2 linked regions of the Homo sapiens genome follow. The protein of the gene in region 1 interacts with the protein of each later gene in a pairwise test. Each region holds a gene or a part of one and is shown on either strand. Other genes may lie near its edges.

Evidence for each region.
Region 2: the proteins of SEMA5B (region 1) and C11orf58 interact in a two-hybrid assay, tested with the Homo sapiens proteins (one large-scale study listed by BioGRID and IntAct).

The regions. Positions count from the first base shown.
Region 1 is NC_000003.12:123,024,907-123,029,417, forward strand, and holds the start of SEMA5B (semaphorin-5B), read right to left. Parts: upstream 2,858-4,511; 5' UTR 2,558-2,857; intron 1-2,557. UniProt on the Homo sapiens protein: May act as a positive axonal guidance cue.
Region 2 is NC_000011.10:16,741,408-16,745,217, reverse strand, and holds part of C11orf58 (small acidic protein), read right to left. Parts: exon of another isoform or gene 1,551-3,810; intron 618-1,550; coding exon 534-617; intron 1-533.

The sequences.
Region 1 (4,511 bases):
TTGCCTGATCAACACACTGTGACCTGCCTGCCCTCTGTAGGCATTTGAATTTGTGCTTCCCCTGACATGGACAATCTCCAGGGCCTCTCCCAGCTTTGAGTCTCAATAAGAAGTGACCACTGTAGGGTCTTTCAAACAAGCCAGGAAGTTCATCCTAAGACAAGAAAGTTTCTGGGGCTCCTCCAGTCCTAATGGGGAGGTAGCAATCTACAGTGTTGGGCTGGACCTCTCGGCTTCTCTGGTTTTCTAGTCTGGCACTAGAAGTGGTAAAGGAACTTTTTCCCCTCCCTAGTGGGAAAGGAGGTGCTGGCTGTCCTATCTCAGGGCAGAGTCAATAAGCCCAGCTCTCTGTCCCACCTGAGTCATCGAGTTTTTTTTAACCCTTCCTCTCCTAAACCCTTGGGTCATCAGGCACCTTGCTGCCTGTACAGCCACTGCATGTTCCTCTCCATGTTCTCCCTCCCCAAACACATAGACAAGTGTCTCAGGATCAAACTGGTGAACTTACTAACCTCTCTGGGCATGGGCTCGGCCCTGTACCTCTTTTTATCTACCAGCATTTAGCATGGTGCATTGCACATAGTAGGTGCTTAAACAGTGTTAGATGTCCACGGTGATGATTATGGTCGCTACTGTTGGCTTTGGAGGAGGAAGGCTCTGGCACTGGCTGCTTGGAAAAAGAAAAGGGATGGAAGATCTGCCATTCCTTCCCAAACTGGTGGTGATAGGTGTTGATATGGAGAAAAGAGCTCCCCCTGAAACCCACACTCACCTACACACACCTTTCCCAACACAGCAAGCCAGAGGCAGCCCTGCCCCGAGTGGTCTACCCCCACGCCCCAAGGCCCAGAACAGTTCTCACCGCCCCATGAGTGACCAAGTGGCAAGTTCCCCCATCTCTCCTATATTTTATCTCCTTTCCTCCTCCGTTGAAAATCTAGACTTCGGGAAAGGTACTGGCTGTTTCTTTCCAAGCTGCTTTCAAATCTGCCCCCCTTTTCCGTAATCTTGAGGTCCAGTTACAAGGTTCAAGTTCCCCTCTTGCCCCTTCCTCAAGGTCATCTGTCCCGGCTTAGAAAAGGTGAGAGGCCACTGCTGATTGTCAAGAAGAGAACAGGCTTAAAAAGATGAGCTGAAGTGGGGAGGCCGAGGAGCAAGCAGGCAGGGAGGGCTGTGGAGAGAGGCCCCGAGGCCGAAGTGGGTTGGGGTGCCTGAGAAAAGCGGAAGGAGGTCGGATTCACTAGGGGCTGAAGGAAAAAGATGGGGTTAGGGCCAGAGAAGGTAGGATCGTGGTGAGGTCTAGACACAGGCAAGCTTCCAAACCCTCAGTCCCAATTCCGTTGGCCGGGAAGGAGTGCATGCCAGGGTAGCCCGCCCTCCCGGCTCCTGCTGCTCTCACCCCGCCCCTCTGCAGAAAGCCTGGGCAGGATCGCAGGGGTGCGGGCAGAATCCAGCGCTCCTCTCTCCCCATCCAGACTCTCGGCCCACTCCCGCCTGGCGCGGCGGGCAGTCGGAACTACCCAAAGACTGGGCTCGAGGTGGGGGGCGGGGGCGGGGAGGAGGGGGCCAGAACGGCGCTGCAGGTGATCCTCCTCCTTGTTTAAAGTTTGCGGTGGGCAAAGGAGTCGGCTCCGTTGGGCCGGGTTTTCTCGAGCCTCGCCTTCTTCCTCCGCCGGTCCGGCGACCACTTCCCTCTTGGCTCCCGCCCCGCGCGGGTCCCCGATCCCCTCTCCCGTCTGCATCCCTCTCTGTGCCCGAGCGCCCCCCGCTCCCTCCCTCCTCGCTGGATCTCCCGCAGGACGTGAGCGGAAAGTGAATGGGCAGCCCCAACCACAAAGACAAATTACCATGAGAAACATAAATCGGGAAATCGCCGCTCGCGTCCCTGCTTCCAGCTGCCGCACCCCTCTCCACCCTCCCAGCCGGGAGTGCGGGGCCCTGAGCCACTGCCCCTGGAGCCTGGTGGGCAGAGTTCACGCTCCGCAGGCCTGGTCAGGGCAAGAGTGTCCTGGAGGCGGGTCTGGGAAGAATCCGGGCGGCGGCTCCGCAGGCGGCGGCGGTGGAGCAGGGACGTCCCTGAGCGGGAGATTTCACACTCTGGGCGGGCCACGCGTTCCCACGCGCCTCGCCGCCCGCACTCTCCCTCAGTGCTGTTTACTAGCCGGCCCTCTCTGAGCCTCCATCTCCGCACCTCTGTCCCTCCGTCCCTCAGCCTCACTCGTCCGTCTCCTTCTCCAGGCCTGGGTCCCGGGTCCCCATCGCCGCTGCAGCCCAGATGCGCCGACCACAGCCCTGGCAGGGCCCAGTGCAACCCGGACCCAAGCTGGCTGGCGGCGGGAACGCAGCAGCGATGAGGGCTCTCAAGCCGAGGTGGCAGCGGGAGGCGCGGAAGCCAGGGGACCCCCTGTCCTCCCGCCCGCAGCCTCACCTACCTGGCTTCAACTTGCCAGAGCCCGGACCCCTACCTCTCTACCCCGATACCCACCCGAGTTGCTGAAGTTTGCAAGTTGCAGCCCCAACCCGCGCAGGGGAAGCGCCCGGGGCTCCCGGGACTCACCTCCCAGAGGCGGGTGCAGGTGCCCGGTTCCCCGCGGCTCCCGACTCCCGGGCGGCGCGGAGCGGCGGGAGCTAACCAGATGGGCTGGCGGCCGGTCTGGGAATGGGGCGGCCGCGCAGGAACGGCCTCCAGCTCTCAGCGCTCCGGTGCAGTCCCCACCCGGGCCCGCGCCCGCTGCGCTCGGGCTCCCAGCAGCCGCTGGATGCGCTGCCGACCCGCCCGGCTCGGCGGAGCTGGGCTCTGGCACCAACCCCCGCGCTCCAACTAGCTCCCGACCCGGCGCTCGGAGAGAGCAGGGAGGAGGAGACCGCGGGAGCAGAAGGAGGGAGGGGGCGGTGGGGGAGGAGTTGCAAGCAAAGGGAGAGAAGGAGGGGAGCGGGAGCGAAAAAGAGGAGGGGGCTGGAGCAGACCTGCCGCGGCGGGCGCTGCACCCGCCAGCCTCGAGGCGCGCGGAGGAGCGCGAGGGGGCGCCCTGCATCCCGCGGCTGCTCGGCCGACTCCCGCCCCGGGCCTGCCGAGTGTGGTGACCAGCCCGGTGGGCCGAAGCCCCTTCCCCGGCCGGCATTCCGGCGGCAAGACCTAGGACTCCGAGCACTTGCCGCCGTTTGCCACATCCCGCCTTGCCGTTCTCGGTCACCCCATCTCGAATGTGACATCCCCGAGGGCCATCGGCGCGGCCTGCCCACCCCAACACTCAGGGCCTGAGGAAGCTCCCCCAAACCCCACTCCGGACTCCCACATTCCCCAGCCCCGTCAGTTCGGAACGATCTTCCTGCCTGTGGATTTGAAGGGGAAGGGACCTCGTGTAAAACGGGGGAGAGCCGTTATAACCTGCAGCGGCAGAGAGGGAGGCTAGGCTGCTGGGCTGGGCTGGAAAGCCAGAACTGGCCGGATTAGGGTTAACCTTGCAAACTGTACGATACCGAGCGAACCTCTCCAAGCCTCAGTTTCCTCAGCTGTAAACTGGGGTTAGTAATACGCACCCTACAGAATTGTGAAGAACGAGTAGGGGATACGGGGAGTAAAATAACATCAGGAACAGTGGGAGGGCAGCCAAGAGATGAGCGATCCGGGGAGGTGGTGGAGCGTTCTCAGCTGAGGACGGAAGGTTTAGCGCAATCACAAGGAGCGAGGCCGAATTGTTTACAAGTTTAAGTGATCTAGTGTTTCTGATGGCTAGAAGGCGGGAGAGAAAGATTCAAGGGGCAAGCTTCAAATCCTAGCTGCCCGGGCTGCAAGAGGGATGGGAAGGGAGCCCTCTGCTGAACAAAAAATATATTTGAAAATGTAAAAAAAGGTGACCTAAGAACGAGTGAGAAAGACAAAGGATTTGAAAAATTAAAACCAGGAAAGTGTGATTCTAAGAGATAACCAAAGAGAACTATGAAATAAAAATAGATAAGTTGGAGGAAGGAAAATATCAAAAGACTTTCTAGAGTATGCCAAAAATTGGATAATTAGAACAAAGTCTGAGTGAAGCATTTTACATAATAAAATTCTGGGTAAAGGAAAACCCAGATAAAGCAGAAGAATTGAGACACTAAGAGCCCCAGAGAAGCACCTCCTGCCTGCCATCCTCCTACCCCTGGACCATGGCAAGAAGCAGTTTGACAGGATAATGGGAAAGAAAGGGTGGTTCTGAATCCAAGAAGGGAGTTTATGAGACACTGTAAAAAGAGAAACAGTGCAAGATCTCAAAGATAGACTTTCTAGGGCAACAGAAATGCTGAAACTCATAATGTGCAGAATGGAGAGAAACTTGCAAAGGGAAAACACGCTCTGGACACAAAGGCAGAGATGCAGAGAAGAAAAGAAAGGAAACGGGCATGTGTGGGCATACCAGTCTGGTAGCCCAGTCTGGGGTAAAAATCAAGTTGGAAGAGGCAGCATGGGATATTGAGTCCAAATCTATCATTTTATCAACAAGGACAATGAGCTCTGGACCATTCTCCCA
Region 2 (3,810 bases), on another chromosome or scaffold:
AAGGTTTTCTTTCCCCCTGGTGTTCTACACATTCAGAGAAACTTCTCTATCTAGTAACAAACTATAGAAATAATCTCTGAAAGTGTAGTCTTAAAATTAAGTTTTTGATAAAGGATATTCCTCTGGTTACTACTTCAAGGGCTGGAGGGAGCTATAAAATATGACAGCCTTTTCACTTTGGCCAGAGGTTCCCACAAGATAACCTACCCAGAAGAAATATATTCTATCAAACCACTGGGCCAACATATGGCAAATCATAAACTTTGACATCTCTTTTCTCCTATACAGCCTCCTTGAACCAAATTTTTCTCTGTACAGTCTTCAAACTATACGGACAGAGAATCCTAGAAGTGGCTCAAAAATAATATAAATTTTATGTGCTTGGTTAGGCCACATGTATTTCCCAAAGCCAAAAGAAATCACACAGAACAGGAAAATGGAATCCAAGTATATTCAGTCCTTCTTACTTAGCATACATAAAAATGGCAATATTTTCACAGAAAAGGTAAAAATGCACACCATCTGATGCTTACCTTTCCTGCACCCATAAGTCTCAAGAACTTTTGTTTTCTCTCTTCATTACCCAAGTCTGCTGCCTCCCAATTGCTAGATCCCAGCTAGAAAAAAAATTGGTTGATTAAATTTTTTTTGCATAAAAATAAGTATTACGAAATCTAAAGTCTACCTGTAACTCTCAAGTTTTTTTCCCCTGTCAGTTGTAACTATAAACAGCGTTCATTTTTCTTGCTTAGGAAGTTAAGCATATTCATCACATTCAAATTTACTCCTTTTCTATTACCTCACAGCAGAATCCTTTAGTTCTCCTACAGCCAGAGCTGAGTCTCAAAAGTTTGCCTCTATCAGCGTCACCTAGAGGGCTTGTTAAAACAGACTGCAGGGCTACAGCCCCAGAGATTCAGCGGGTCTGGGGTGGAGCTCTAGGATTTGAATTTCAACAAATTCTTAAATGATTGCTGATGCTATTTATCTGGGGACCACACTTTGAGACCCACTGCCTCGCAGGGTAGGGTCCTAGAGCACCTAGTACTCTGAACTTAGATGGCAGCCACAGTTGTTAGTTGAAGTTAAAAATTCTGCCTTTATCAGTGAGCTAACTTTTAAGAGAGAAAATTTTAACTTTTCAGTTGCCTTTTTTTTTTTTTTTTTAGCAGTTCTAGTTACTTGTTAGGATTGAGATGTCATTACTTTTATTCTTTCTTAAAAGTCTTCCAAAGAACAAAGAGAAAACTTATTTTTTAAAAGAACAGACTAAAACTCATGCTATCTTGCAATTATCAAATGAGTCCACTGAACTCTTATAAATCTAAGAAATATGATGGAATCCTAGTGAGCGTATTTTTTCCCTACATTTTGAAACAAATGTAAAAACTGTTGTTTTTTAATAGTTTTTAATAGTTCATTATTTATAATTCATTATTTATAATTCATTATTCTCAACTATGCTAAAAATAACTAAATAGTTTTTAAGATATTAGTTTTCTCATTGTATTGTCCAAAGTATTTCATCATCATCTTTCAAGACATCATACCTGTTGTCTACTTTTAGCTTTCACTGAACACCGATGGGAATTCACAATTTTTCATTTTCCATTCATAATGGCAAAGAGAAAAAACTGACAGAAGGCATTAATCATTATTAGACGAAGAAGGTGAATGCAAAATGAAAGGCAGTCGTATTCTAGACTAATCATGATAAAATTAACTGCAAAAATCTCAGACTATGAGTTTTTGGATGAGGAAATATTAGAAGGCTTTTCTCCCACCCAAGAATTGACAAGAAAAAGAAAAAAAAGACAAACAAGAAATGTACTCTCACTGGGAGAGCCATCAGCAGGAAGGACTTCATCTTGCAATATTTCACAGTAAGAGCCAGGATCATCCCATTTTCTAAAAGGAGGTGTGAGTGTTTTATCTCATCTTTTACAATGTTTATGCATCAAAATTTACTTGATTTGGTTGCAAATGGACAAAGGGTGAAGGCAGATGTGTACACAAGGTGACTGGAAGGAAAATGAAATAAAAATATTCACCGAATTTATCATTCTAATTAAGTTTATAATCTAAAAATAAAAATGTTTTGCAATTATGGAGCAAGGATGACAATTACAAAATTGTAAGCAATAGGTTTCAAAAATTCCTCAAGTATTGTATTTTGATGATGCAAATCCGAGACAGGTTTGAACTTCAAGGGTCCCTTATAAGTGGATTTTTTTCAACCAAATGCAGATCCATCCCAAGTATATGGAAGGCTGATTTTTCCTATTCTCAGGTTCCACAGGGCTGGCTGCAGAACTTGAGTATGCAAGATTTGCCAAAGAGGTGGGTGGGTCCTGGAACCAATCCCCCACATTTAGCATACTGAAGGATGACTATATGTACATCAAAATCAGGAAAACAAAGAATATAAATTTCGGTTTGCTATTGTTAAATTCACATTAAAATTCCTAATAAAGTTGTTTTGCACTATCTCCCATTATTATTTCTAAAAATTATTTGTAAAAGACTAAAAGAATATTTAAAAAAACCACTATTTCCCCTGGGCATATGAGAGTTAAAGCATTTGTACCAACCTGGACCCATTTGCACTTCTAAATTCTCATTAGTGGAAGGGCTTATATGCTCTCATAATTTTGGTTCCCTAAGTTCCAAATCTCTACTTTTTTCCATGTGACCCCCCTCATATATTTTTATGGGCCATTTAGTTCTTAACTATTTCTGGCTCAATATAGTTAAAGTAATGGTGAAGCTTCAGTTCTGACAATCACTAAATCACTTGCTCTGTAAGCCAGGATCTGACATTTAACTTAATTTTAACTCCTTATCTATAAAGAGATGCCTTTTTAAAAGACTGTCTTAAGACACTGAGGCACAGAGAGGCTAAGTGACTTCCTTTGATCCTCTGACCATCCTGTGTTTTTTCCACATCATACTGTCCATGATCAAATGAGACAGATGAAAGTGGTCTATGAACTAGTTATAAAAATGTATAGAAGTTAAAAAATTGTGTAAAAACCAACTTTCTTGATTCTGCTTCTATTAAAAAACATTTTCAGTGTTTATATAAATAACTGTCATCTACAACTTCTAATCCCAATGTTTTAAGGAAATAACATTAAGTCCTGCCAGTTCTTCTTTTCAAAGACCTTAAAGCAGCACTCCAGGACCAGACTGGCATCAGGGACCAGTTTCGTGGAAGACAATTTTTCCACTGAGAGGGAGGATGTGATGGTTTCAGGATGATTCAAGTGCATTACATTTATTGGGCACTTTATTTCTATTATTACTACACTGTAATCTATAATGAAATAATTATACAACTCACCATAATGTAGACTCAATGGAAGCTTTGAGCTTGTTTTCCTAAAACTAGACAGTCCCATCTGGGGGGTAATGGGAGACAATGACAGATCATCTGGCATTAGATTCTCATAAGGAGTGTGCAACCTAGATCACTCGCATGTGCAGTTCACACCAGGGTTCACGCTCTTATAAGAATCAAATGCCAACAGGAGGCAGAGCTCAGGTGGTAATGCAAGCCAAGGGGAGTGGCTGTAAATACAGATGAAGCTTTGCTGGCTGGCCCACAGCTCACGTCCTGCTGTGCAGCCTGGTTCTGTGGCCCAGGGGTTGGAGAGCCCTGCCTTAAAGTACAACAGTGAGTACTTGCCCAAATGCTGCATTCTGAAAAGCACGTGGGTGCACTATACATTTTAAGAGAGTTCCTTAGCAGTTACTAAAATTTACCTCCCCACTCTTCCCACTTCCTATAAGATAGCTTTCATTTCTCCA